Homo sapiens: one gene and its partners. The protein of the gene in region 2 interacts with the protein of the main gene of each other region in a pairwise test. Each region holds a gene or a part of one and is shown on either strand. Other genes may lie near its edges.

Evidence for each region.
Region 1: the proteins of ARL3 (region 2) and TBL1X interact in binary tests that used the Homo sapiens proteins (3 or more experiments, as listed by UniProt).
Region 3: the proteins of ARL3 (region 2) and GOLGA4 interact in a two-hybrid assay, tested with the Homo sapiens proteins (one study listed by BioGRID).
Region 4: the proteins of ARL3 (region 2) and ARL2BP interact in binary tests that used the Homo sapiens proteins (3 or more experiments, as listed by UniProt).

Annotation. Positions count from the first base shown.
Region 1 is NC_000023.11:9,684,482-9,692,464, reverse strand, and holds part of TBL1X (F-box-like/WD repeat-containing protein TBL1X), read right to left. Parts: intron 4,449-7,983; coding exon 4,190-4,448; intron 887-4,189; coding exon 754-886; intron 353-753; coding exon 211-352; intron 1-210. UniProt on the Homo sapiens protein: F-box-like protein involved in the recruitment of the ubiquitin/19S proteasome complex to nuclear receptor-regulated transcription units. Plays an essential role in transcription activation mediated by nuclear receptors.
Region 2 is NC_000010.11:102,683,020-102,691,002, forward strand, and holds part of ARL3 (ADP-ribosylation factor-like protein 3), read right to left. Parts: intron 6,925-7,983; coding exon 6,874-6,924; intron 2,983-6,873; coding exon 2,797-2,982; intron 1-2,796. UniProt on the Homo sapiens protein: Small GTP-binding protein which cycles between an inactive GDP-bound and an active GTP-bound form, and the rate of cycling is regulated by guanine nucleotide exchange factors (GEF) and GTPase-activating proteins (GAP).
Region 3 is NC_000003.12:37,294,825-37,302,807, reverse strand, and holds part of GOLGA4 (golgin subfamily A member 4), read right to left. Parts: intron 7,830-7,983; coding exon 7,731-7,829; intron 6,722-7,730; coding exon 6,589-6,721; intron 3,976-6,588; coding exon 3,788-3,975; intron 3,521-3,787; coding exon 3,437-3,520; intron 624-3,436; coding exon 476-623; intron 1-475. UniProt on the Homo sapiens protein: Involved in vesicular trafficking at the Golgi apparatus level. May play a role in delivery of transport vesicles containing GPI-linked proteins from the trans-Golgi network through its interaction with MACF1. Involved in endosome-to-Golgi trafficking.
Region 4 is NC_000016.10:57,248,259-57,254,135, forward strand, and holds the end of ARL2BP (ADP-ribosylation factor-like protein 2-binding protein), read left to right. Parts: exon of another isoform or gene 1-278; coding exon 279-385; exon of another isoform or gene 386-1,508; coding exon 1,509-1,594; exon of another isoform or gene 1,595-1,713; intron 1,714-2,152; coding exon 2,153-2,249; intron 2,250-3,445; exon of another isoform or gene 3,446-3,534; intron 3,535-3,907; coding exon 3,908-4,009; 3' UTR 4,010-5,377; downstream 5,378-5,877. UniProt on the Homo sapiens protein: Together with ARL2, plays a role in the nuclear translocation, retention and transcriptional activity of STAT3. May play a role as an effector of ARL2.

The DNA of each region.
Region 1 (7,983 bases), on a different chromosome or scaffold from region 2:
CTGCATTCCAGCCTGGGCAACAGAGCAAGACTCCGTCTCAAAATAAAAAAAGAAGCCAAGAACACCTCTCTGGCAGCCCATCAGAGTGGGGGCTGAGCACACAGGACCACCTGCCTCCTATGTCTGCATGGGCTCCATTGCTGCAGCCCCTGCCTGGTGGCTGGCCGATTTTACCAATTTCAAAGTGCCCAGGGGGTGGAAGATGCTTACATTCCAGTCCAGTGAGGTGACGTCTTTGTTACTCGGGACGTCATGGCCCCCCTCTCGTATACAGTGCCTCAACACGAGCTGGGTGGAGCCCCCGTTGCTATTCTCATTCAGGTTCCATATCCTTGCAGTTGAGTCTCCAGATCTACAGAATAAAAACACAGGAGCCTCTGGTGTTTGGTTCAAATGGGATAAGAAGCTCTCCACAGCTTGCTCTCTGGCCAGAGGGCATCTTCAGCACATGCTCTTCTGTCTTTTTCATCCCTCTGGATCCCTGTTTCCCTCTTTGCCATCTTTGCATTTGGTAATTTAAGTGCTGCTGTGTTCCTCACCACCACATGGAGAAAACGACTTGGAACTATGGCTTCTCCACAATATGAGACATGTAGAGAAGTGGCTCATAGAGCCACCCATTCCTTGGTCTGCCCACACACCGGGGTAAGAAGGGGAGTGTGTGTTCCTTTAGGCAGAACTCCAGAGAAGGGCGAGCAGCTTGCATCTCCCATCTCCCCAACTCTGGAGCGCCCCCCACCCTGACATCCTTACCCGGAGGCTAGCAAATCACTGACAGGATTCCAGGCACAAATGAACACCTCAGACTCATGGCCCCGAAGGACTGTGGCTTTGCTGGATGGAATCTCAACCTCTCCATCTATTTCCATTGGCTTCGCGTGATTATCTGTCACAGCAAACACAAAGAGACAAGTGGCTTACCAATACAAGAGAAACACACTTAAAGGGCTCTTTTGTTTCCAGAAACATTTTTTTTATGTACTAAATACTACCTCTGATGATTCCTTTTCTTTTTTTTTTTTTTTTTTTGAGACGGAATCTTGCTCTGTCGCCCAGGCTGGAGTGCAGTGGCACGACCTCGGCTCACTGCAACCTCCGTCTCCCAGGTTCAAGCAATTCTCATGCCTCAGCCTCTCAAGCAGCTGGGATTACAGGCATGTGCCACCACACCAGGCTAATTTTTGTATTTTTAGTAGAGGCGGGGTTTCACCATGTTGCCAGGGTCGGTCTCAAACTCCTGGCCTCAAGTGATCCACCTGCCCCAGCCTCCCAAAATGCTGGAATTACAGGCGTGAGCCACCACGCCCGGCCTACCTCTGATGATTCTAACGAAATCGTGGCTTTAGTGCAATTTAGTAAATATTTTAGGTTTCTTTACATTTTGACAGTCTCTAAATTTCATTGAGGAATAAAAACAGTTTGCTAAGTGCAGTGGCTCACACCTAAAATCCCAGTGCCTCAGGAGGCTGAGGAGGGAGGACTGCTTGAGACCAGGAGTTCAACAGCAGCCTGGGCAACATAGCAAGACCCCATCTCTATAAAAACAACAACAACAACAACAACAAGAAGTTAGCCAGCCCTGGTGGTGCACACCTGTAGTCCCAGCTACTCAGGAGGCTGCGGTGGGAGGATCACTTGAGCCCAAGAGATTGAGGCTGTAGTGAGCTATGATTGTGCCACTGTACCCCAGCCTGGGTGACAGTTATTTTTTGTAACTGGGGCCAGCTAACTACAGCCCATGATCCAAACCTAGTCCCTGGCTGCTTCTGCATAAATAAAGTGTGACTGGCACACAGCCACTGCCCATGTTTTCAAATTGTCTATGGCTACTGTTATGGGCTAAACTATGTCCCCCTAAAATTCATATCTTGAAGCCCCAATTTCCAGGGGCCTCAGAATGTGGCTGTATTTGGAGATAGGGCTTTTGAAAAGGTGAGCAGGGTAAAAGGAGGTCACAAGGGTGGGCCCTAACCCAGTGGGACTGGTGTCCTTATGAGAAGAGGAGATCAGGACACAGACACAACCAGAGGAACGAGCACGTGAAGACATGGAGAGAAGACAGTCTCTACAAGCCAAGGAGAGAGGCCTCGCAAAGGAACCAGCCCTGCCCACACCTTGATCTTGGTCCTCCAGCCTCCAGAACTGTGAGAGCAAATTCTTAAACAGCCTGGTGTGTGGCCTTTTGTTACGGCAGCCTGAGCTGACTCTCACAGCTGTTTTTGCACTCTGACAGACTTCAGCAGCTGTGACAGAGACTGCATGACCCTCAAAGCCTGGGACATTTACTGTCTGTCCCTGTAAAGAAAGTTTGCTAGACCCTGGTTTATGCTCCTGAGAAAGGAGCAATATAGCCTGATCATCAAACAATTAGCCATGGTTAACAGTTTCACAATACGGTGAGGAATTGAGCATGCTTTGTCATATGTCTTTCGTAAAGGTGCTCTGGTGGAAAACCCAGGAAACAGAAGCAATGTGATCTTAGGTTACGTGTCACTGAGTAGGAGTGCTGTTTATGTAAAAAATAAGAAAACGCCTGGTGGTCCTGCTTAGCTCGAGAAGCCTGATACAAAAGATTCAAACAACAATGGGACTCTTCAATGTTGGTGTTTCTTCCATGCTCTGAAAGTGTCATCTGGCTGGAAGAGAGGAAAAACATCTTTCTGCATGTGGCAGACCCACTGTCCCTGGTGATGGCAAGAGGGAAACTGGCATCTTAGCCAGCCACGCAGTGGCAGGGGGCCTGGTAACTCCAGGCAGGAGTGACAGCCAGTATTTTCATTCTTATCAAAATGCGGCCTTCCAATGCTCCTGTCTCCATAGACTGGGCTGTGGGTCAGGCACAAGATGCAGGGTTTGAGAAGGGGGTTGGGGTGGCTGTTCCAGAAGTTCAACCAGGGTGAACTCTGGCCACATGCACAGAGGAGGAGGGCCAGACTCTTCTTTTCCTGCCCCACAATTGTGGACCTTATCAATAGAAGGCTGGTAAGAGGTCTTTTCCTTTTACCTGAGGCAGGTGGCCTTTCTGTCACCCTATTGCAATAGAAACGTTATTAACAATCTGTGAACCTTCCATTAAATGCTGGATCTGCTTCTCCAAGAATTTTTTAGCTGGTGCCTGTGGATGGTAACTTGTCACAGGGCTTGGCTCGGGCTGCAGCCTCATCAGAGGCAGCCGGCTGGCTCTCTACACACCAGGAAGTTGTGGAGCCAAGACGTACCAGGTAAGACAGCAACGTCATAGTCAGCTCGATCTTCAAGGACTGCTGGGCTGCATGGCTGCTCCGAGGGCAACAACTTTCAAATAAGGAAGAACACACACACATACACTACACCATGCACAGGTGTGCGTGCGTGCGCACACACACGCACACAAACTTGTGCACACACACGCACAGGAACACAGGTGCGCACACGCATATACGCGTGCACGCACACACGCACACACGCACACATACACGCACACGCATGCATACACACTTGCACACAGACACAGGCACATACACATGCAGATATACACATGTACAACATACATATGCACCCATGCATACCTGTGCATGCAAGTGCATGCGCGCACACGGTGCGCCATGCACGGCACATATGCTCGCTCTGAACTTGCACCCTGAAGTGGCGTCCCTACGGGTGTATAGAGCAGTATGTCTAAGTGGAGCAGGTTCTCTGGGTAGAATTTTGGGCTCTCTGACTGGCCACATACTCACAGGCAATCACCTAACAGGGACTGATGTCCTGGGGTTTTGCAAAGACCAAATAAGCCTATGCCCAGTCTCTGGGGCCCAGTGCCCTTGGCAGGAACTGCAAGCTCAATAATTATACCATAATTTGGCCAAAAACCCTCAACATGGAAGGCTGGAGGCTGAGACTAAAGGTGTCCATGAATGAAACACTTTTGTTTATCACGGGCAATAATCATGTGTTACATGAGAGTTCTCAGATTAGCAGGCGCAGCACGATTTCCTAAAGTTGAAGATGAGGGTGAAGAAGCTCAGGTCCAAGGGTTGTGATGGAAAAAATGGAACGGGAAGTTCTTCCGGCCAGATCGTAAGCAAACACTAGAGAGCAGCTTCTAAGACATTTATAGCAGGCAGGTTTTTAAGAAGGCATTCGGATTTGCCCAAGAAGAAAACAATGAACCCAGAGAGGCCCACCGAACTCCCAGAGCCCCTGCACTCACTGACTGAATGTGCTCTGTTCTCTTCCCCATTCACCGTGGCCTCTCTGTTCTTCGATGGATTTTGGTGGGAAACGCCGGCTGAGGTCGTGGTGGCTGCTGTCGCTGCTGCCGTGGCCGCAGCCGCCGCCGCCGCCGCACTGGCTTGCTGCTGAGCGAGCTTCTCTCGGAATGCCTGCTGCCGCGTCTGCACCACGTCGGGCATCACGGCGTCTATCAGTGACAGGGACTCTATGGGGCGGCCGTCGAACACTGTGCCATCCTGGGGAAGCAAGCCAAGGTACAGCTGTCAGCTCACGGGGGTGAGGGCTCTGGGAATGGCCTCTGCTCTCTGGGCAGGAGAAGCGCAGGGAAGTGGGGCGTAAACAGCTGGCTCCCAGCAACCAGGGGGCCACGGGGGAAGCGGCATGGACCTGGAGCCTGGGGTGAAGGGATCCCACGGTGGGCAGGGAAGGGGACACGACAAACTGTTGGTAAGAACTAAGTGTGATGGTTGTTCTGAGTGTCAAACCCAATTGGGGCATTGAGGACAAAAAGGCCATTTATTCTTGACAGAAAGTGCTATCCCTGATGGCACAATTCTCAACGTGGCGGGGGCGGGGGGTGACTGTGACTCCTTGGGGGGCATTAGGCAACGTCTGGAGACTTTTTTGGCTGTTACAACTAAGGGAGGAGAGGTGCTCCTGGCATCTGGTGGGTGGAGCCCAGGGACGCTGCTCAACATCCAACAGTGCCCAGGATGGCCCCACCACAGAGAAACACGCAGCCCCAAATACTGAGTGCTGCGGTGGAGAAGACCTGCCCACGTGCTATCGCGACTGTGCAAAATCTCTGCAAATGACCATCCATTATATGGGAGGGTAACGCTTCAGAAGCAGAGCCCAAATGAGATGCACACAGCATTTAGGCCTGGATTCCAAGTCCATCTGTCCAGGGGATTTAATAAAATAGGCACTTGCTGCTACTTGAAATGACTCCTTGGGTTCAGGGTTAGACTAACCATAGCCATGACACAATTGACATCATTTTGTTTTGATTCATGTTTTTTTGACCATTCTTTGATTCTCTGATTTCCGTTTACCATGGAAAACTTTCCACACACGTTTAAAAATACAGCAGGAGGTTCTTTCCTTGTGAAACACGCCAGATATTCGAATCAGGTGAACCTCAGTAAGCCTTGGGGTTGTATCTGGATGTGCAAACACATGTTTATATGCTCTGAACCTGAATTACTTCAGAAGTGAGGAAGAACTGAAAGGCTCAGGTTTCAGCTGAAGAATAACTAAATGAAACATCACTCCAGATGATTTCTGATTACAAGACAATATTCAAAATAAAGAAAACAATACAACCTATGTAAAGAACTAGCTGCATCACCTCCTCAGGCACTCTTGGCCCTTGATTCTGGCCATGGAGTGGACAATGGTGACCGATGGGTCAAGACGCTCCCACACCCCCTTCCTCCTTCATATGTTCACACCCAAATGAACAAGCCCATGACAAAACGCGGTAACTGTCCAAAGTAGTAACAACATGTCCTCATTTAAACTCCGCGGGCACACTGTCTCTCTTTTTTCCTTAGAGACGGGGTCTCGCTCTGTCATCCAGGCTGGAGTGCAGGGGCACAGTCATGGCTCACTGCAGCCTCAAACTCCTGGACCAAACTGATCTTCCTGCCTTAGCCTCCGAGTAGCTGGGGTTACGAGCATGTGCCACTGCACCTGGCTAATTTTTTTTATTTTATGTAGAGATAGGGTCTCATTATATTGGCCAGGCTGGTCTAGAACTTCTGGCCTCAGGCAACCCTCCTGCCTTGGCTTCCCAAAGTGCTGCGATTACAGATGTGTGCTACCGCCCCTGGCGTCTCACTTTTTAATGATTAGAAACCATTGTGACAAATGGGACAGTCTTTCATTAGCCCCTAGAGTGCTGGAATCTGGAGTGCCGAGGGAAGGCAACTATGAAGGCTTCTCAACAGATGAGAGGTAGAAGGCAATGAGCAGAGAAAAACAGAGTCACAGGCGCCTTGAGATCTGATGGCTGGCTGGACCTTGGAGACATGTCCTCTTAGATACACACGTGTGTGTTTTGCAGTGAGGAAACTAGACAGGGCCAGAAGGAGTCAGTGGAAGATCCCGGGCACACAGTGTGAAGGGGTTTGCCAGGGAAAAAGGAGCACAAGAGAGGAAAAAACACCGGAGTTTCGAAAGCCACAGCTTTGCGAAAAATGGCAGGCAGAAGTGCAAGAAAGAAAACAGGGACTGGGTACAGTGGCTCACGCCTGTACTCCCAGCACTTTGGGAGGCCAAGGCGGGAGGATCGCGGGAGGATCGCTTGAGCCCAGGAGTTCAAGACCAGCGAGACCTCATCTCTACAAAAAATAAAAAAATTATCTGGACGTGGTGGTGTGTACCTATAAGTTCCAGCTGCTCAGGAGGCTGAGGCAGGAGGATCTTTTGAGCCAGGAGGTTGAGGCTGTAGTGAGCTATGATTGTACCACTGTACTCCCACCTGGGTGACAGAGAGAGACCCTGTCTTAAAAAAAAAAAAAAAAAAAAAAAGAAAAGAAAAGAAAAAGAGAACAGGATATTATTACTTTGTGATTTTCTAAAAGAGTTTTTTAAAGCAGTGTAACATGCTGTGAAGGAGAAAGGTTTGTAAGGGCAAGACCAGTTCCCAGAAAGACGGGACAGAGGGAATCCTGGAAGAATGTGACTGCCAGGTGGGATGGATGACGGTACAGTATGGAAAAGTTCAGTAGAATCACGCGCCTGGGTCAGAGTAGGAGAAAGAGAAGCAGAGGGAGGAAGCTGCAGGGGACTGAGAAATCAGTAACAGGGACTGTCTGTGGTCCCAGTGCTTTGGGAGGCTGAGACAGGAGGATCACTTGAGCCCAGGAGGTCGAGGCTGCAGTAAGCCATGACTGTGCCACTGCACCCTAGCCTGGGCAACAGTGTGAGACTCAGTCTCTAAAAATAAAATAGGGACTCAGGTGAAGGCGGCAAGAAAGGTTGTGGATCCCATTATTCCCCAGAAGTCAAGGGGATCTTCACTGCAGAATCATGAGACCAGAATAGGAGGGGACAAGAGAGGGTGAGGTGTGTGGTTTAAAACCAAAATTGGTATAAAATTGGCACAACTCCTCACTGTGGACCAATGTAAAAAGTGGGAGGGGTTCCAAGCCAAGTGCACAGTTTTAATGTGCATTTATTTTTCCATCCTCCTACCCCATCTGCTCTACAACGAGCCCGGTAATGAAGGCATCCCTTGAGATCCTCATTAACACCAGAGCCATCACCTCTCTGCCCTGACGCAGCCTCTGGTGATGCCCTCTGCCGGGTTCTGCTGAAATACAGATTCCACCTGACCATGTGTGGGGCCCCTCTCTAACCAACCTGCTCCAGAAATCAAGAAGAGACAGCAAGTCTGCATTAAGTGCAAGGCAAACGTCCACTCCGAAGCCCAGAGCAGCTGAAGATCTGCCGTATCTTTTTCAGATGTGGCGGTGTAAGTGTTTACATCAACTAACAGCCAGTGATTCTACATTTAAGTCAAAAACACAGAGCCATGTGGGAGGGGCACTGGAAGCTTGCTGCTGTGTGTCCACACAACCGGTATTAACACAAAGTGGAAAAGAACCCAACTTACTTTCTTCTTCTTCCTTTTTTTTTTTTTTTTTTAATTTTAGAGATGGAGTCTCACTGCATTGCCCAGGCTGGAGTGTACTGGTGCAATTATAGCTTACTGCAGCCTCAACCTCTCAGGCTTAAGTGATCTGATCCTCTCACCTCAGCCTC
Region 2 (7,983 bases):
AGTCTTTCAGTTTTAGAATATTTTTAGCCCTAATAAATAAAAATTACTAAAGGCCTGTACTTCAACTAAGCAATGCTGGAAAGGAATTCCACTTAAGTGACTCTTTTTAAGGCAAAAACCAGGAAGCTGGTGTGTGGACAAGAGCTTGGGTCAGAGGCACCACCTTAGGGAGGTACACGGTCAACCAGTGGCTCACAGTGAAAAGCGCTTCCACAGCAAAACTCCATGACCTTTCTCTAGTCCCCAAAGGTTACCACGAAAGGACAATAGACAGCAGATTCCCTTCTTAATTAACATTTTTATTAAATAACCCATTTCAAATAATGGTTAAATTCTCTAAATTTATATCATTCTATTAACCATAATCTAATCTCATTAACCTTGAAATCCCAGTCTTAACTACCCAATTCTATACACCATGGTACTATCTACTAAACTAATTAAGTGACCTTCAAACTATTTCTCCTCCATACAAAAATCATTTTTTATTTTTTGCTCATAGTTTTTTGTTGGATCTCTCTTGATATCATTTCCTGTGAACTTGGTTGCTGAAGGCCCCAATCTGGGAAGAACTTTCTTATCAAAATCAAATCATATATAATAATCTCACTTTACTCACTCAAACTGGTTTATTTTGCAGTGCTCCCCTGCCTGTCCCCAACCCCACCCTCTAGCTGCCTAGTAGCTTGCTGCCTCTTTTGTGGCCTAAAGATCCCGTGAAGGGCACTGTCTACGGTGGTTACACAGCCAGGAGCATGGAGTTCTATCCTTTAATCTCCACCTGATGGGAGTTGGGGGAGGGCTGGGGGTTGGGAAGAAAATGACAGGAGATCCCTCTCTACCTCCAGGCTTCTCTGAAGCAGTGTCCTTGACTTTAAATGCCACGGCTCTAAATACTGATTCTAGATTACTCTAGTTCTCCTTTTTCACATCGCTAAGGCTGGTGGAAGATACAAGAGGCTTACTGTTAATTCTCGCTTTGCTTTTTCTTCAACACTCTGGTCAAGCAAAAGAAAGATTCCAGAGCTGTACTTGCACTTTCTTACGAATATGCACACAAACTATATTGCTTTTCTTCAGCCCCACCTTCATAATAGCCCCCAACCTCAAGATGCTCTCAGCTTTCTCTCTCTTTTTTTCTTTTTCTGAGACAGAGTCTCACTCTTTCACCCAGGCTGGAGTGCAGTAGTGCAATCTCAGCTCATTGCAAGCTCCGCCTCCTGGGTTCAGGCCATTCTCCTGCCTCAGCCTCCCGTGTAGCTGGGACTACAGGTGCCCGCCACCACACCCGGCTAATTTTTTTGTATTTTTAGTAGAGACGGGGCTTCACTGTGTTAGCCAGGATGGTCTCGATCTCCTGACCTCGTGATCTGCCTGCCTCGGCCTCCCAAAGTGCTGGGATTACAGGTGTGAGCCACCACAGCCGGCTACTCTCAGCTTTCTAAATTTGTCATCTAAACCTTTTAGACAGGCTCATGCTGAAGTGGTTTTCAGAAACACAAGAAAATTACTATCTTTTCTTGGGTCTCATCTTCATCAAAATAACCTTAGGCCTTATGACTGCCATCCTATGTGCAATCGGAGTAAAATATGTTAGACAAATTTTGATTGTTTATTTTTATTTATTTATTTATTTTGAGAGAGAGTCTTGCTCTGTCGCCCAGGCTGGAGTGCAGTGATGCGATCTTGGCTCACTGGAACCTTCGCCTCCCAGCTTCAAGCAATTCTGCTGCCTCAGCCTCCCAAGTAGCTGGGATTACAGGTGTGCACCACCATGTCCGGCTGATTTTTTTTGTATTTTTAGTAGAGACGGGGGTTTCACCATGTTGGCCAGGCTGGTCTCGAACCCCTGACCTCAGGTGATCCACCCGCCTCGGCCTCCCAAAGTGCTGGGATTACAGGCATGAGCCACTGCACCTGGCCTTGATGTTTTAAAAAGCAGCCAGGGCCGGGCAGGGTGGCTCATGCCTGTAATCCCAGCACTTTGGGAGGCTGACGCAGGCAGATCACTTGGGGTCAGGAGTTCAAGACCAGCCTGGTCAACATGGCGAAATCCCGTTTCTACTAAAAATACAAAAAATTAGCTGGGTGTGGTGGTGAATGCCTGTAATCCCAGCTACTTGCAAGGCTGAGGCAGGAGAATCACTTGAACCTGGAAGGCGGAGGTTGCAGTGAGCCGAGATTGTGCCACTGCACTCCAGCCTGGGCAATGAGAATGAAACTCCGTCTCAAAAAAAAAAAAAAAAAAAATTAGGGGGAGCCTGCTTTTCCGGTACACAGTTCCTCAGTACAAAGCATGGGGCTTTCTGTCAGCAGAAGCCTCCCAGTGGGAAACCAACCTGAAGTAGCAGGAAACAGACACCAACCCTAGGGGTAGGGAAGATAACCAACAGAAGAAACAAAAACACTTCTAGGATGACTAGTACGTGTATGGTTATTGGTGGCTATCACCTTGGAAGTACAGGCATTTTAGCATCCGTAATATTAGACACAACACAAAACCCCAATCCAATCAATCATCAAAGAATCCTAGAGTTAGAGACAATCCTCAGTCTTCTGTTCTCACATCCCTCCCAAAGGGGAAGCTTGCTGCACATGTGGGGTGGCTTACCTGGGGCACTGTTGGGGCACCTCATGATATCTGATTGGTTGCTAAGCAGAAAAGAACCAAATTCCTCCATGCCCTTCATATCTTGGAATGGCTCATCTGCCCATCAAGATCAGCCCAACCAATGAGACAGACCACCTCGGTTAGCTGTCATGTTGCCAGGTGGCCAAGCCTTCCTGTAATCTCACCTGAACGCCCTCTCCTGTGAGAGCTGAGCAAGACTGGATCTGCCAGACTCGGTCGCGGATGGTATGCAGGTTCAGTCCTTCTGCAATTTCAGAGGCAGGGGCTGCTGTGAGCAAATCCTGCTTATTAGCAAAGATGAGCACTGGCACACAACTTAGTTTTTCTTCCTCCAGTAATTCCGCTAGTTCCTGGATTTTGAGAAGGGAGAGGGAGGGAAGGTTAAAATCTATACATCTATGATATTTAACCATACACTACTTTTTTTTTTTTTTTTTTGAGACAGAGTCTCACTCTGTCACCCAGGCTGGAGTGCAATGGCGTGATCTCGGCTCACTGCAACCTTCGCTTCCCAGGTTCAAGTGATTCTCCTGCCTCAACCTCCTGAGTAGCTGGGACTACAGGCATGCACCACCACACTCAGCTAATTTTTGTATTTTTAGTAGAGACAGGGTTTTGCCACGTTGGGCAGGCTGGTCTAGAACTGCACACCTCAGGTGATCCACCCACCTCGGCCTCCCAAAGTGCTGGGATTACAGGCGTGAGCTACCATGCCCGGACAACCATGCAGTTCTAATCAGAAAAAAAAATAACAGTTAAGCTGATCAACTAGCAACTTTCAAGAGTAGTGATTCTCAAACTTTTTTTTTTCTTTCTTTTTTTTTTTTTTTGAGACAGGGTCTCGCTCTGTCGCCCAGGCTGGAGTGCAGTGGCGCAATCCCGGCTCACTGCAACCTTTCACCTCCCAGGTTCAAGCAATTCTCACCCCTCAGCCTCCTGAGTAGCTGGGACTGCAGGTGCACACTACCATGCCCAGCTAATTTCTGTATTTTTAGTAGAGATGGGTTTTCACCATGTTGGTCAGGCTGGTCTTGAACTCCTGGCCTCAAGTGATCTGCCCGCCTTGGCCTCCCAAAGTGCTGGGATTACGGTGTGAGCCGCCGTGCTCAGTCTGATTATCAAACTTGAACCTGTATAAGATTCCCCTGGCAGATTCCTGGGCCCAACCCAGAGATGCTGACTTTGGAAAGTCTGAGCTAGGGCTCAGGAATTTACTTTTTTTTTTTTTTTTTTTTTTTTTTTTGAGACGAGTCTTGCTCTGTTGCCCAGGCTGGAGTGCAGTGGCGCGATCTCGGCTCACTGCAACCTCCGCCTCCCGGGTTCAAGCAATTCTCTGCCTCAGCCTCCCAAGTGGCTGGGATTACAGGCGCCCACCACCATGCCTCGCTAATTTTTTTTGTATTTTTAGTAGAGACGGGGTTTCACCATCTTGGCCAGGCTAGTCTTGAACTCCTGACCTTGTGATCCACCCCCCACCTTGGCCTCCCAAAGTGCTGGGATTACAGGCGTGAGCCACCGCGCCCGGCATAGGAATCCACATTTTTAGCAAACTCCTGAAGTGATTCCGCTACAGATGATTCACAGATCACTTTTTTTTTTTGAGACAATATCTCACTCTGTCATCCAGGCTGGAGTGCAGTGGTGCGATCACAGCTTACTGCAGGCTCAACCTCCTGGGCTCAAGCAATGCTTAACTTAGCCTCCTGATCAGCTAGCTGGGACCTCAGGTGATTGCCACCATGCCCAGCTAATTAAAAAAAAATTTTTTTTGGCCAGGCGCGGTGGCTCACCCATGTAATCCCAGCATTTTGGGAGGCTGAGGTGGGCGGAGTTCGAGACCAGTCTGACCAATATGGTGAAACCCTGTCTCTATTAAAAATACAAAAATTAGCTGTGCATGGTGGTGGGCACATGTAGTCCCAACTACTTGGGAGGCTGAGACAGGAGAATTGCTTGAACCCAGGAGGCAAAGGTTGCAGTGAGCTAAGATCATGCCACTGCACTCCAGCCAGGGTGACAGAGTGAGATTCTGCCTGGAAAAAAAAAATTTTTTTTTGTAGAGACAGGGTTTTGATATATTGCCCACGCTGGTCTTGAACTCCTGGGCTCAAGGGATCCTCCTGCCTCAGCCTAACAAAGTGCTAGAATTATAGCGATGAGCCATCACACCTGGCCCATAGAACACTTTTGAGAAAATCATTCAAGGGAGAAGACAAGAAGTGGTTTGAGATTCAAAACTTACCCAAGGTTATTACCTGCAAATAACTTTCAATGCGTGTGTGTGTGTGTATGTGTGTGTGTGTATGAAATTTAAACTGAAAATGACAATTACTTTAGAGATAATTCTGTTTCATCAATCTCTATCTCTAAAACATGCATGCACATGCTTCACATTTCATCAAACCTACATCCTAAAATAACTTTATTGGTCCATCTGGCAAGGTCCCTGATATTTAGGTTATAGGTTGGGGTCTAAACTATATGTGATTTTGTTTACAAAAACTATAGGAAAGGGTGTATATGTACTTAAATGATAGGCCCCACCTTTTCCTCATTAAATCCACATTTTAGCTACTTAAAACACATGGGCTTTCAAAGAGAACTGTATGGATCAAGAGGCAGATGACTACATAGGACCCCCTCCACCTCCAAGCTCATTTCACATGAGTGATAATCCAGAAATCATCAGGGTATGGAAGGGTGGTGGGTTGTTTCCAGAAGTCTGGAGAGTTCTCAACTCAATTTCAAAAAAAGGGACATAAACATGAGAACTGCTACCTTTGGAAGGCCACCTGTGGTCATTTAGGACACAGGCCAAGGACTCTGCAATGATAACTTTTTAAAAAACTTTTTTTTTTTTTTTTTTTTGAGAGGGAGTCTCACTCTGTCACCCAGGCTGGAGTGCAGTGACACAATCTCGGCTCAGTGCAACCTCTGCAGTGGGTTCAAGTGATTCTCCTGCCTCAGCCTCCAGAGTAGCTGGGACTGTACAGGCACGTGCCACCACACCTGGCTAATTTTTTGTGTTTTTAGTAGAGACAGGGTTTCACTGTGTTAGCCAGGATGGTCTTGATCTCCTGACTGCAAGTGATCTGCCCACCTCAGCCTCCCAAAGGGCTGGGATTACAGGCGCGAGCCACCGCACCCAGCCCTTGGCATGTGCATTTTTTCCTGTCCTTTCAGATTTGTCAAAGTTACCCCTGAATCAATTAAGTAGGTATTGAAAAATGTAAATAAAAATGAGAAGTGACTTGTTCCTCTGGGTTCGTTTTCACATGGCCTGGGAAAAAACCTGAAGAGCCTTTGGGCATGGTGCTAAGTTCCACTTGTCTGTATCTCATATATTCAATTTGATTAAAGCTAAAAAGCTTTAATTAGAAAACTGTTTAGGCTGGGCATGGAGGCTCACGCCTGTAATCCCAGCACTTTGGGAGGCTGAGGTGGGTGGATCATCTGAGGTCAAGAGTTCAAGACCAGCCTGGTCAACATGGTGAAACCCTGTCTCTACTAAAAATACAAAAAAATTAGCCGGGCGTGGTGGCGCACGCCTGTAATCCCAGCTACTTGGGAGGCTGAGGCAGGAGAATCACTTGAACCTGGGAGGTTGAAGTTGCAGTGAGCTGAAATTGTGCCATTGCACTCCAGCCTGGGTGACAAGAGTGAAACTCCGTTTTGGAGGGGGGAAAAAAAAACTGTTTAAAGAACTCTCAACTAATTTCAGACAACTGGTATTTTTGCCTGCTTGCTAGAATAACTGTCTTGTTTGAACTGTAAAGGTTAACAAACAAAACAAAACAAAAACCTCCCTCACTCTCACACATTTACAAGGTTGATTAATGAATACCCAGTTATTTGGGAACTATCTCAACAGAAGAATTAGTATTTAAAAAATATACTAGGCTGGGCGTGGTGGCTCACGCCTGTAATCCCAGCACCTTGTGAGGCTGAGGCGGGAAGATCACCTGAGGTCGGGAGTTCAAGACCAGCCTGACCAATGTGGTGAAACCCTCTCTCTACTAAAAATACAAAATTAGCCAGGCGTGGTGGTGCATGCTAATTCCAGCTACTCGGGAGGCTGAGGCAGGAGAATTGCTTGAACCTGGGAGGCGGAGGTTGGGGTGAGCCGAGATCATGCCATTGCACTCTAGCCTGGGCAACAAGAGCAAAAACTCCGTCTCAAAAAAAAAAAAGTACATACATATATATATATAAGAACTTTGATATAAAAAAGAATTATTTACCTGACCCGTCTCTTCAAATCTTTTTCTGTCTGCACTGTCGATTACATATATCTATAAAGGAAAAGAAGAAGGTTATTTCAGTGAGCAGAGATGGAAAAGACAGGGCAATTTCTGCAAAAGGAGCAGGTGATCCCCAATCAGCATATTCCAATTAGCACAACATACAGAAATTGACTGGTGAGTCTCATCTCATTTATGAAGGCCAAACAAACAAATACACAAATTAATTAAATAGGGATGCCCAGAAAATACCTTCAGCAATGCTCCAAAGTCTAGGATTTAGGAAAACCAAGTGGGATAAAATAGCTACATTTAATGGGCACTTGATGTTGTCACTAAACATTACTAGGTCTACTCTATTAACCCTCATTACAACTCTACAATATAGATTTCACTATTTTCCTTTTTTTTTTTTTTTTTTTGAGACAGAGTCTTGCTCTGCTCTGTCACCCAGGCTGGAGTGCAGTGGCATGATTTCGGCTCTGGGTTCACCCCATTCTCCTGCCTCAGCCTCCCCAGCAGCTGGGACTACAGGCACACGCCACCATGCCCAGCTAATTTTTTTGTAGTTTTAGTAGAGACGGCGTTTCACCATGTCGGCCAGGCTGGTCTCGAACTCCTGACCTCAAGTGATCCACCTGCCTCAGCCTCCTAAAGTGCTGGGATTACAAGCATGAGCTACTGTGGCTGGCCTACTTTGTTTAAATTATGTTAAGTTTAAACACAAAGCTGATATTAATAATAATACAGTAAATGATTAGTAGTAACATGAATATATCTTGAAAAGACATTTATATCTGTCAAAAGGCTGTTATTATTTCTCGGCCTAAAGAGAAATGGAAGATACCCTATCCCCTCCCTTCCATCACACTTCAAGTTTTATTTCTTAGACAAACCCTCAAATTAATAAAGCTCATGTCAGATGTTCTCAATGTCGTCTTCCCTAAGAATAACTCTGGTACTTCTAGGAGTTACTCTTAGTCTTTCAAACCTCTTTTTTTTTTTTTTTTTTGAGATGGGGTCTTGCTATGTTACCCAGGCTGGTCTCAGACTCCTGGGCTCAAGGGATCCTCCCACCTCAGCCTCCTGAGTAGTTGAGATTACAGGCAT
Region 3 (7,983 bases), on a different chromosome or scaffold from region 2:
ATTCTCTTTAAAAGCAGACTATAACTTAGACTTTTTGTTTACCCTAAAGCATCTATAAGGTAGCAATTATTTAATAAGTACCATGCTGTACCTACTGGGAAGTTCTACAATTTTAAATCTGAATTTTGATACTCTGTCAGCACACATTTTCTGTAAGGGGCCAGATGATAAATATTTTAGGTTTTGTAGACCACATATGGTCTCTGTCATATATTTTTCTTTTGTTCAAGTATTTAAAAATGTAAAAATCATCCTTAGCCTAAGGGCTGTACATAAATAGGCTGTGGGCTGGATCTGGCCCACAGGCCACAGTTTGCCAACCTCTGCCTCCTCTAATGAGCAGATGGGTGTCTTATTAGGAGCCTCTATAGTTAAGAATTTTTATCAATATTTAACTCATTTTTAAAAATACTGGTCAAGCACTTTAAATAACTTTTGAGTTCCAACATAAAACAAGTAACCCTCAAGTTCTTACCAGCTCTTTCGGACTTTTCTTTCTGTTCCCGTAATTCCTCTCCCTGGGTAGTCATCTGTTTGATGCGACTACGGAGTTGAGCAATTTCTTCTTCTTTCATTTCCAGGGTTTCATGCATCTGACGTTTTGTCTCTGCGATTACCATTCCCTGAATAGAAGTGAAGACTCTAAAACATTTGCATAACAAAACTGCATCATCAACAGCACAGATAAAACTTAATTTAAAAGGCAGAAAAAGGCCGGGCATGGTGCATGGTGACTCATGTCCATAATCCCAGCACTTTGGGAGGCCAAGGAGGGTGGATCACCTGAGATCAGGAGTTCGAGACCAGCCTGGCCAACATGGCGAAACCCTGTCTCTACTAAAAATACAAAAATTAGCCAGGCATGGTGGTATATGCCTGTAATCCCAGCTACTCAGGAGGCTGAGGCAGGAGAATTGCTTGAACCCAGGGGGCAGAGGTTGAAGTGAGCTGAGATCACGCCATTGCACTCCAGCCTGGGTGACAGAGTGAGACTCCGTCTCAAAAAAAAATTAAAAATTAAAAAACAAAAAATAAAAGGCAGAAAAAATGATATTTCTTGCTAAGTACAGCATAACAATTATTTCAATACTTCACAAACTGAGGTCTGTTTTCTGCTCTAATCCTATTACCTAGCATAACAGTATTTTTTACATTAAAAATTTTAATAGTTTAATCCTTAAAGCATTAAAACATTATTACTTAAAAGATTTATTTTATAGCCTTTCTACAAATGTGCTATCTGTCTTAGTAAACAGTTTATAATGAACAAAATATAGTCTTCTGAACCTGGCTTGGCACTACAATAAACTACAAGTATTGATCTGTACTATAACATGGGGATAACCCCAGACACTTGAGAATGGAAGGTGCCTGCTGCCACACTGGATAAAGCAAAATCCCAGGACACATCTACCTGGTTCTTCTCTTTCTTCCTGTGACTGTCTCTGGTACCACCACTATTCCTTACTTTGTAAGGCATCTCCATTCCTCCAACTTGCTAGTTACTTCTGTTCCCTCTTTCTGGATAATCTACACTAGAAATGGAGGTCGGCAGGGGAAAAAGACAACTAAATGGTATACAGTAAAAAAGTCATTTAGGACTAACAAAAAATGAGGTGGTTCACTTGTCTCTTGAAAAAATGTTCAGACTTTGTGACAACAATTTCATGGTCTTAAGATTAGCACCCTCTCCACAGGGTTTGCCAACCCTTGCTTTAGAATATGACTCTTCCAGATGGCTAATATTAATGGAGAGACAGAGAGATAACAACCACGTAAGTGAGGCACTGCTATATGAAATCTCAAAACAAAATCATGGGCTTTCAGTTTCTTCAAAAACCAAAATATAGTGGAAAGAGAAGGAGAGAAGATAATCAAACCAGTAAATTAAAAGAAATCTTAAGAGTCATATCAACCAATTGCAATGAAAAAACTTTATTTGGACCCTGATTCATAAAAGAGCAAAAAATATATGAGAAACTAGAGAAAATCTGAAACTGACTAGATAGCAGGTCATATTTTAAAATTATTAAATTTTTAGATGTGATCATGATAATGTGGTTATAGTATTGTAAAAATAATGTCTTTTATTTTAAAGATATATTAAAATACTTTTGGAAAAAAATGATAAAATTTCTTGGATTTGCTCTAAAACAATTCTGGGTGAGTAGGACAATGACAGTTGAGAAGGTACAGATGAAACAAGATTAGTCATGAGATGTTAACTGTTGAAGCGGGGTGGTGGGTTCAAAGAAATTCATTTTAGCAGCTTTTCTTTTGTAAATGTTTTAAGTTCTTCATTATAATATTTAAAAAAAAAAACAATTTAAGTAGGCCCTCAAGAAGTGTATAATCTAGCAAAGCAGTATTATCAAAAGGATGAAAAAGATTGCCAATACATTTTAACAGCAGGACAGCTCTGACATGTTCTTAATTACGTGACCACTTAAAATACTCTAGTGATAACCCGGCATATTAAAGAAAATGGTGGATGCTATGGAACAAACTGGGAGCTGCTTAGAAAAAGGACCCAAGAACTTGGAGCTGAAAGACAGGTCAAAACTGTTTACCCATGAATTTTCTGGTTGTCTTTGCTGCGTAGCTTTAGCTGCTGCTCCAACTCCAAACTACCAAAGGTAAGACTCATTCCTTCCTCAATCCTCTAATCTCATCTACACATTCTAAAATTCATTTGTAGACATTTTTATTTATGCTAATATATACATTATCACTTATTTTTGTTTGTTGTTTTTTTAAGAGACAGGGTCTCACCCTGTCACCCAGGCTGCAGTACACTAGTGTGACCATAGCTCACTGTAGCCTCTAACTCCTGGGCTCAAGCAATCCTCCTGCCTCAGCCTCCCGAGTAGCTGGGACCACAGGCATATACCAACATACCCAGCTAATTTTTTTTTTTTTTTGTAGAGAGGAGGTCTTGCTTTACTGCCCAGGTTGATCTTGAACTTCTGGCTTCAAGCAATCCTCCCGCCTCAGCCTCCCAAAGTGCTGAGATTAAAGGCATGAGCCACTGTGCCCAGCCCCTTATTTATTTGTTAGGCAACTTATCTGAGAGATTAATCTGTTTCCATATTATCTGAAAGAACATACTGATATCATTCACATTTATAATGCCTTAACTATAAATAACTTTTCTCTGTAAAGTAGTTATGTACTATAAATATAAACTTCCTTTGCAACAGTTATTCTAGTCTACAAATCATAATGCTGACTGGGATCAAGAAATCAGAGAATCAGTTTTACATGACACAAAACTAATGCTAGTAGTTACAAAAATCTAGAAATTAAAGATTTTTCATGGAAAAAGCTGCAATAATTTTTAGAAAACAGAAACAAGCATGAATGTTTCCAACTGTTTCCAAAAGTAAATGTTGGGGCCTCTTGACAAATTTTAGTATCATAGGTTTTGTTGTTTTACCTTATCTTGTTCAAGCTGTTCAATTAAGTTCTTTGCATCACGCAACTGAGTGATAAGTTTAGTCTTCTCGGCCATATGAAGGTCCTAAAAAAAATTTTTAAATTCATTTCCATCTCTAATAAAGCTTCTTCTCATTTGAGAACTCTAAACATTTATCTAATTTATATACATGTTACAGTGCAGAAGGAAAAAAGTACACAGTAAGTCTCAAGGTTTGGTGTTATGTAGGCCAGGGCAAACAAAAATGCCCTTTCCATCCACTCTCCTCTCCCGGAGGTACAAGCCATGCTGTGGAGCCTGTGGATCTAACTTTATAGATTAAATTAGAACAAAACTCATCTGCTCTTTTACCTTTATCTTTTCTAGTTCTTGAAGTCTTTCATCCAGTTGTTCTTGCAGAGCTTCTTTTTCACTAGTTAATAGTGTACATTGTTCCTTATGTGACTGAATTGTTTCCTTACAACGCTTAAGTAGGTTCTCTTGACGCTTCACTCTTTGCTGGAGTGTTTCCAGTGTTTTTACAGAAGTTCCATCTTCCACTAACAATAAAGCAACATAAGAAGGGCCCATCAGTAAGGAATATGAAACTGCCTTTGGAAAATTATGACTGAGACAGTCAAAGAGATCTAATCTAACCGACTCCATCTTGGTTCTAACCTTTAAGCTGTCATTGTTCGTTCCTGGGTGTAGGCTGAACTAACTTTGGGAGAACTTAGTTTATAGTTTATAGTCTAAAACAAAGACAATAAAAGCCATTTCCCAAACAAACCCCCTTCTTGCCTGGAGACTAGATTGCCTTTGTAGGACTAACAAATTAGCCAAAAGATTAGAAATTATCATTTAGGAGTCATGCAGCTGAAGGCTACAAGATTCTGACCACCACTAAACTGCTCCTAATATCACTGCTTGAGATATTTTGCAGACCCTGCACTTGATGGATCAGCTGGCAACACCCAGATCGATAAATTGGCTCATCTGATCTTGTGGCTCCCACCCAGGAAGTGACTCAGCACAAGAAGACAGCTTTGATTCCCTATGATATCATCTCTGACCTGACCAATCAGCACTCCTGGCTCACTGGCTTCCTCCCACCCACTAAATTGTTCTTAAAAACTCGGATCCGTGAATGCTTGGCGAGACTGATTTGAGTAAAATAAAACTCTGGTCACGTGCACACTCGGCTCTGCGTGAATTACTCTTTCTCTACTGCAATTCCCCTATCTTGATAAATCAGCTCTGTCTAGGCAGTGGGCAAGGTGAACCCTTTGGGCGGTTACAAATATAAGGACACTTCCAGGAACAGTCTGTTACTACACAGGTGTGTATTCCCTCTTTTTTTTTTTGAGACGGAGCCTCGCTTTGCCGCCCAGACTGGAGTGCAGTGGCATGATCTCGGCTCACTGCAACCTCCACCTCCCTGGTTCAAGCAATTCCCCTGCCTCAACCTCCCAAGTAGCTGGGATTACAGGCGCACACCACCACGTCTCGCTAACTTGTTTGTATTTTTAGTAGAGGTGGGGTTTCACCATGTTGGCCAGACTAGTCTCGAACTCCTGACCTCAGGCAATCCGCCTGCTTCAGCCTCCCAAAGTGTTGGGATTACAGGTGAGAGCCACCACGCCCCACCAGGAGTGTATTCTTACACCAATATTCTGCTATACTCTTAGATGAAGAAGGGACAACCCTAGTCAGCTAATAAACTGGCACCCTTCCAAACCTCTACTTAGTATTAGTTGTTTAATCTTTATCTGAAGAAGCTTAGTAGTAATTCACCTCTTTGAGGTTCAACCCCATTCAGAATGGCACAGTAGTTAACTAACATTAACTGAATCCACCCTCCTTAAAATGACAGTTTGATAATCATCTTTTGTTATTCAAAATTATGTGTCTTAGCTCACCTCCCAAAAGGATTAATAAAGTACGGTATTCTTTCCAACCACATTCTAATCTCTTTCTGAGAGGAGTTCTGGTAAGTGCAACTTTCTCCATCTCTTTACATTTATGAGTCTGAAGTTTCCACATGTCTGGGAATTTCGGGACTGGCCCCGCCGCCCCACCACCCCACCATAGTCTGGTTGCTCAGATAGTTAACTGCTCAACTACTTACTCCAAGTTTATCATAAGTCCCTTTGAAAGAAAAAGCTAGGAAATAAAAGACGGGAATTTTATTGCGTATATACCTCAAGCCTCAAAGCAAAGAAGGCTGTAACTGAATTTTAAGACAAAATATAGCTATTTCTTCTTTTTCCAGTTAAAAAGCAATTAATAGGACAAATACAAATATCTATGAATATAGAACTATTTAAGCAATATTTAAAAACTAAAATATCCAAACAATTACAAATAGCCCACTTATTAGCATGTAAGCAGAACTGACCTGTTCATATGAAATCTAGCTACTGCTATTAATAAAACAGTGTAGCATAATAAATGAATTTCAATTACAATGAAAATGTGGTGTTACAGACTATGAAATTTTTGCATATTAAAACAACTTTTTTGGTTGGGCACAGTGACTCACACCTGTAATCCCAATACTTTGGGAGGCTGAGGCAGGTAGATTACTTGAGATTAGGAGTTCGAGACCAGCCTGGCCAACATAGTGAAAGCCCGTCTCTACTGAAAATACAAAAATTAGCCGGGCATGGTGGTGTGTGCCTGTAATCCCAGCTACTCGGGAGGCTGAGGCAGGAGAATCGCTTGAACCCAGGAGATGGAGGTTGCAGTGAGCCGAGATCATGCTACTGCACTCCAGCCTAGGCAATAGAGTGAGACACCATCTCAAACTAACAAGCAAACAAAAAACACTTATTTTCTCCTAAATAACAACAAAGAACCAAAAAAACAAAACAAACCCTTGCATCTTTCTGAAACTATTAGGACCACGGACACTTCTACCTCAGCCCATATCTATCAGCTCACATCCTGGAATCTCTCAAAATCCTCCTCTAGGTTTTCTTGGGGTTTCATTTTTGTTTTTGTTTTTCTTGTGGAGAAGGGTTTTCTCTATGTTGCCCAGGCTGGTCTCAAACTCCTGAACTCAAGCGATCCTCCCACACTGGCCTCCCAAAGTGTTGGGATTAAAGGTGTAAGCCAAGGAGCCTGGCTCTCCTCTAGTTTTTAAATTAACCTTTTGACAAAATGAAGCTTACCTACTGGCTCTCCATCACTTTCTGGATTCTCTTCTTTAGTGAAGACTTCAGCCTGTGGTTCCAGCTGAGGAAGTGGTTTCAGTACATCAACATTCATCGGGCCATTTCGTAATCGTTGTTTCAGTAGAGAAACCTAATATAAATGTGCTTCATTAGAAAAAAGTCAAAAAAAACTATGGGAGTAGTACAATTGTCCCTTGGTATCTGTGGGGGATTGGTTCCAGGATTCCCTGTTAATACCAAAATCCGCAGGAGCTCAAGTCCATTATATAAAATGGTGTAGTATTTGCATATAGCCTACACACATCCTCCAGTATAATTTAAATCATCCCTAGATTACATAAACTACCTAAATAATGAAAATGCTATGCAAGTAGTTGTTGTACTACATATATTTTAGAAAATAATGAGAAGAAAAAAAGTCTACATGTTCACTACACATGGTTTTCACCCCCTAAATATTTCTGATCCAGTTGGTTGAATCCACACATACAAAAACACATCAATGTGGATGGCTTATTGTACTTTATTTAAAACAGAGAGAGGACGGATTAAATGATATTCTTCTTACTAAAGTGGGGGAAAATAATCAAAATAAAAAGTTTACTCCCAATACAGCTGGTTTTTATATTTGCTATTATTATTATGCAGTTAGTCAAAAGATACAATAAATAAAAAAGTATCCTTAACATTAACTGAAGAGCTAGGAGTGGTGGCTCATGCCTATAATCCCAACACTTTGGGAGGCCAAGGCGGAAGGATCGCTTGAGCCCAGGGGTTTGAGACCAGCCTGGGCGACATAGTGAGACCCCATCTCTACAAAAAATTTAAAAATTAGCTGGGCGTGGTGGCATATGCCTGTATTCCCAGCCACTCTGGAGGCAGAGGCTGGAGGATTGCTAGAGCCCAGGAATTTGAGATTGCAGTTAAGCTATGATCACGCCACTGCACTATAGCCAGGGTGAAAGAGCAAGACTCTGTCTCAAAAAAAATTAAAAATAAAAAAAATTGAGGAAAGCAAAAAGTTTTAAAAATAGGTCTTAAAAAAGAAAAAACTTTTGCAACCTTGCAGATATCCAAATCAAACCCCCTCTATTTTTCTTTATCCAAAAAATTCCACACTTTTTCTTTTACTCTTTTACCTGAGTTTGGAGAACACTGATATACTGATCTTTCTCCTCTAAAGATGCATCAAACTCCTCTTGCAGATGTTTCTTTGCCTGCTGGTCCATTTGGAGCTCCTAAAACATAAAATGATTTACAGGTAATTTTCAGTATAAAACAAAAAATACAAAGTTTTCAAAATTTAAAAACATGTTGAATACAGATTTGCATTCCCCTTAAGGTATCAGCAACAATAATTAGAGAATAATTAGTATGTAAAACATTAACATT
Region 4 (5,877 bases), on a different chromosome or scaffold from region 2:
ACCGAGATCGCACCATTGCACTCCAGCCTGGGCAACAAGAGAAACTCCAGCTCAAAAAAAAAAAAAAAAAAAAAAAAAGAAAGAAAGAAAAAGAAAACAGGAGGATTGGGCTATTTCCACATCAGGGTCCCATTTAATACCCCCTTAAAACATCAGCTTTCCTTCCAGAGACTGATCATTGAGAAAGCAGTACTGCTGACATAGATCCTGCCTACTTATAAATCATAATGGTTGGTAATCTCCATTAAAAAGAATAAATTTTCCCCACTGTGGTTCAGATGACGAGTTCCAGTTATTACAGAGAAATTTCATGGACAAGTACTACCTGGAGTTTGAAGACACAGAAGAGAATAAACTCATCTACACACCTATTTTTAATGAATACGTAAGTAGATTTCTATGTCTCCTACCAGGAGGTCAGAGTTTTTAAAAATTTAAATTTAGATTCAAAAGACATTGAAATTTGCTGCCTTTTAAAATATGCCACCAGTACACTTCCAGGAATCCTCATTAGCATCTGGTTTAAGTTCATTTTCCTCTGCACAGCCTTTGGGGCTATTTTCCAAAAGGCTTTCAGGCAAATATTTGATTAACTCATCAGCTTCTTATTTAAAAGAAGTTTGACCTGGGCTTGGTAGCACACCTGTAGTGCCAGCTATTTGGGAGGTTGAGGTGGAAGAATCACTTGAGCTTAGGAGTTTGAGACCAGCCTGGGCAACACAGCAAGATCTCTGTCTCTAAAAAAAAAATGATAATAATAAAGATAATAAATAAAAGACGTTTGGCTTATCATAATCCTGCTTTTAATCACAGTACATGAGTTCTTCATACCTTGCATTTGCATGCTTTTGACAAACCTTTCTGCTTTCACATACTCTTTCTTTCTTCTATATAATCCAGTCATATATGCATGACTATTAAGTAAAAGTGAAAACTGAGACCAAGATCACTAACTATTTGGTGGAAAAACCAAGACTGGAACCCAGGAACCTCAGCTCGTCACCCTTGGGTCTCTACACTTTACCCTGAGGCCTCTTAACAGCCCCCTGGGATTCTGTCATCTAAGAATCCATTTTGGCCTCCAGGACTTTATTTTCTTAACACAGAAGCATGGCATAAACAAACCTGCCCAGAAGGAACCTGTGACTGCCTCCATGTCCGTATGTTCTGTTACACAGATGCCCTCTACCCAGGAGGCAAAGCCCCCACTTACTGCATCCTGCACTGGGTTGTGGGTGTGGGTACCGTGCTACTCACTGTCTCCACCTGTGTCAGAGCATCCACCCTGTTACAGCACCATTATCAGCTAAGGCTTCTCTTCCACACCAGGCTGAGTACTTCTCCAGGACAGGAGCTGTGTTTTGGTCCTCTTTGGTATCCTTGGCACTCAGTGTAGATTGTGGCACACAGACCTCAGGAAATGTTTAGAAAGGGCTGGGCAGGCTTTCTGAAAAGAAGTCTTGTTTTCCCAAAGTATGGTCTCACCAAAATCCTTTCCACTGTTGCAGATTTCTTTGGTAGAAAAATACATTGAAGAACAGCTGCTGCAGCGGATTCCTGAGTTCAACATGGCAGCCTTCACCACAACATTACAGTGAGTTGAGCTTGACTGATTTTTGTGTTTTGTTTTGTTTTCTCACTTTCTTCCTTCCCTAGGCTGACCAAAAGACGCTCCTTGTTTGTTTTCCTGTGCATGCCGTTGGTGGTTAGGTCCTATGGAGGAAGCCCTCAAACCTTTTAATGAAATCTTGAAAAGATCAGGCATTGGCTCACGCTTGTGTTCTCAGTGCTTTGGGAGGCCAAGGGAGGAGGATCACTTGAGCCCAGGAGTTCAAGACCAGCCTGGGTGACATAGTGAGGCCCCGACCCTACAAAAAATAAATTAGTCAGGTGTGGTGTTGCATACCTGTGGGCCTAGCTACTCAGGAGGCTGAGGCTGGAGAATCCCTTGAGCCCAGCAGTTCAAGGCTACAGTGAGCTATAATTGCACCCCTGCACTCCTGCCTGGGTGACAGAGCAAGACCCAGTCTCTAAAAAAACAAAACAAAAATAATGCGGGGGGTGGGGCTGGGGTGGTGGAAAGAAAAACGAAAGCAATCTTGAGGACTGTCTCATCATTCATTCACGAAACAGCCATCTGTTCCGTTTGCAGGCACCATAAGGATGAAGTGGCTGGTGACATATTCGACATGCTGCTCACCTTCACAGATTTTCTGGCTTTTAAAGAAATGTTTTTGGACTACAGAGCAGTAAGTTACTACTCCTATTTATTTAGCCACTTTGAGCCACTTAGAAAATTCCAGGTAGAAATACCGAACATGAACCTCCCACGCTTCCCCCATCATTCTCCCTTCAAACTGGCCGATGAGGCATCAGAAGAGTGAGCTGCTATTCTGTTGTGGCTGGGACCTTCTCATGTTTTCATGAAACAAGCCCAGGTACCAACTTAGAGTTCCTAATCAGAAGGACAAAACCGAAAAAGCAGGTCTCAGGTCTCATTCTGCCTTGCCTTTCTTTTATTTATTTTTTTTTTTGAGACAGAGTTTTGCTCTTGTCACCCAGGCTGGAGTGCAGTGGCACCATCTTGGCTCACTGGAACCTCTGCCTTCCAGGTTCAAGCAATACTCCTGCCTCAGCCTCCCGAGTAGCTGATACTACAGGCACCTGCCACCACGCCCAGCTAATTCTTGTATTTTTAGTAGAGACAGGGTTTCACCATGTTGGCCAGGCTGGTCTCAAACTCCTGAAGCATGGTCCGCCTCGGCCTCCCAAAGTGTTGGGATTACAGGCGTGAGCCACCGCACCTGGCCCTGCCTTGCTTTTCATATAATGCAAGCTCTTTATAAGAAAAATAGGAGACTGGGCATGGTAACTCACACCTATAATCCCAGCACTTTGGGAGGCCGAGGCAGGCAGATGGCTTGAGCTCAGGAGTTTGAGACCAGCCAAGGCAACATGGCAAAACCCTGTCTCTATGAAAAATACAAAAATTAGCTTGGTGTGCTGGTGTGCATCTGTAGTCCCAGTCAGCTACTTTGGGGGCTGGGTGGGAGGACCGCTTGAGCCCAGAAGGTTGAGATTGCTGTGAGCTGTGATTGTACTGCTACAGTCCAGCCTGGGTGACAGAGTCAGACCCTGTGTCAAAAAAAAAAAAAGAAAAGAAAAAGAAATGGTGTTGGGTGTGGTTGTGCATGCCTGTAGTCCCAGCTACTTCGAAGGCTGAGGCAGGAGAATCACTTGAGCCTAGGAGTTTGGGGCTGTATTACACAGCAGTGGTGCCTGTGAATAGCCACTGCACTCCAGCCTGGGCAACATAGCAAGACCCCTATCTCAAAAAAAAAAAAAAAGAAAGAAAGAAAAATGTTTTCCAGTGAAGGGAGGTACATTTTAAGAGTGCATTTTAAGAATGACCAGGGCCAGGCTGGACACAGTGGCTCATACTTACAATTCCAGCGCTTTGGGAGGCCAAGGCAGGAGAATCACTTGAGCCCAGGAGTTCAAGACCAGCCTAAGTGACATATCAAGACCCTGTCTCTACAAAAATAAAAATAAAAAAGTTAGTCAGCTGTAGTGGTGCACACCTGTAGTCCTAGCTACTCAGGAGGCTGAGGCAGGAGGACCACTTGAGCCCAGGAATTCCAGGCAGCAGTTAGCTGTGATCAAGCCACTATACTCCAGCCTGGGTGACAGAGCAAGACCCTACCTCTTTAAAAATAATATTAAAAAAAATTAAGACTAGGGCAGGCCAGTATTGAGCAGAAATGCAGAATAACCAATAACCTGTGTTCCCTTCCTATGTACTCTGGAGGTCCACGTTCCCACCTTCAGCTCTGCCTTCCCCATGTCAGAGGCAAGATTCCAAGCCAGGGCTCTTTCTAGTCCTTCCTTTGGTTGTTTTCTCATATAGGAAAAAGAAGGCCGAGGACTGGACTTAAGCAGTGGCTTAGTGGTGACTTCATTGTGCAAATCATCTTCTCTGCCAGCTTCCCAGAACAATCTGCGGCACTAGGTCCTACCTCCAGCCAATGAATGGGATCATTCTGGATGTCACCAGCCCAATAGGCTCAGCTCATGATGACAGAACACATCTTGGAAAGACTGACTCTGTTATGTAACTCTTCATTTATGTTAAGTATTAATAGGTCAAAACCAAAATGACCTAACCCTCCTGGACCTATTTATCCTGAAACACCTTCTTGTATTCATTAACCATAGTACTCCTCCCCACCTCAAGTAGACACCTCTCTCAGGAGCTTCTGAGTCAGACGCCTCTGGAGCGAGCCCTATGTCAGGCACTCCACCTGGGGGGCCCTTCCCCAGCATACCTGCTGGTGTGTAAGTGTGGACTAACCCGCCGCCACCACCCTCTGTTCCAGCAGGCTCTGCATGAATCTTTGTGCACTTGCACCTCTTTTTCACATGGGCCACAGTTTCAGTACTTCAGCCTCAGTGGGGTTCCTGATGTTTATCTAGGGTGTTACTCAAGCCCAGTTTGAGATTTTGGAGTCTCCTGTGATCACATCTTGTCTCGGCTGTAGGAATCAACAGAAGGAGACGTCCTCTACATAAAAGCTCCATGTGAAAAGCTACTCCTAGTCTTAACATTTGCAGTCCTTGTGTCACTGTCTTCTGGTCCTGATGTAGTCCCACTGTTTCTAGAAGTCTCTTTTAAGCATTATTTTTGAAAAAAAAAATATTTTTATAGATGAATACTCAGGCTAACCTAGTGGATGTGATCTTGGAACTTCCATGATTATCCACTTAAAGATCAAAGTATTATATGCTGTGTGCTTTTTAGGTGTTTGTTAGTACTGTGAAGGCAAAAATGCTTTCTACATTGACATTCATTCCTATTTTACTGGGCACCTATGAATGTATGCTGTGTGCTAGAAATAGACTAAAACATATTCCTATAGCATGTTAGTGTGTTTGCATGTTTGCTGAAAATCCTTTGTGTATAAACCAGTTTGTAAGGTTCTCTGGGTTAGGTAGGGACTCTGCAGTTTCTTCCTGTCAAAATCTCTCCTACCAAGATGGTGTTCCACTGTCCAGCCCAGCATGAGTAGCAGGTAGAGCACAGCTTTACTGGCTGTTTGTATGCTTTGGTTTAGTGCAATGTGTGGTAGATTACTTATCAGAAAACATATATGTCATCTCTAGAACGAAGAAAAAGCATAGTAGTTCAATTCCCAGTGTGTCCCTTTGATTTTTTTTTTTTAATAGTAAAAATAAGAATCTGTACTGACTTTTCACTTGGCCATTCTGGTTTTAAAGGACAAGCTACAAGCTCTGTGTTTCTGTACTGATGTGTCACTTATTAAATACTTTTGTACCATGAGTAAAACTTCAGGTGTTTCGCAAGAACCACCATTCTCAATGAGTTGTATTCTTTCTTTAATGTAGCCACTGCCATAAGGTTATTAATTATTGCTTTGGTCTTTTTTTTTTTTTTTTAAATGCCACCTCTCCTGGGCTTGCTTTCCCTTGCTTTGTCTATAAATGGGAGGTCCACCACAGCCCAGGCATGCTGGGAGCACTTGCTAAGACCTGTGGACCAGCCTGCCTACTTGAGAAAAGGCCAGTGGACAAGTCCAGAGATTAAATGATGAAAAAACGATGATAAAGGCAAATTGGTTTTTCACCCTTTTTTTTTTCTTTTTTTTTTGGGAATGGAGTTTTGCTTTTGTTGCCCAGGCTGGAGTGCAATGGCACGATCTCGGCACACTGCAACCTCCACCTCCCGAGTTCCAGTGATTCTGCTGCCTCAGCCTCCCAAGCAGCCGGGATTATAGGTGTCCACAAACACGCCCAGCTAATTTTTGTATTTTTAGTAGAGACAGGGTTTCACCATGTTGGTCAGGCTGGTCTTGAACTCCT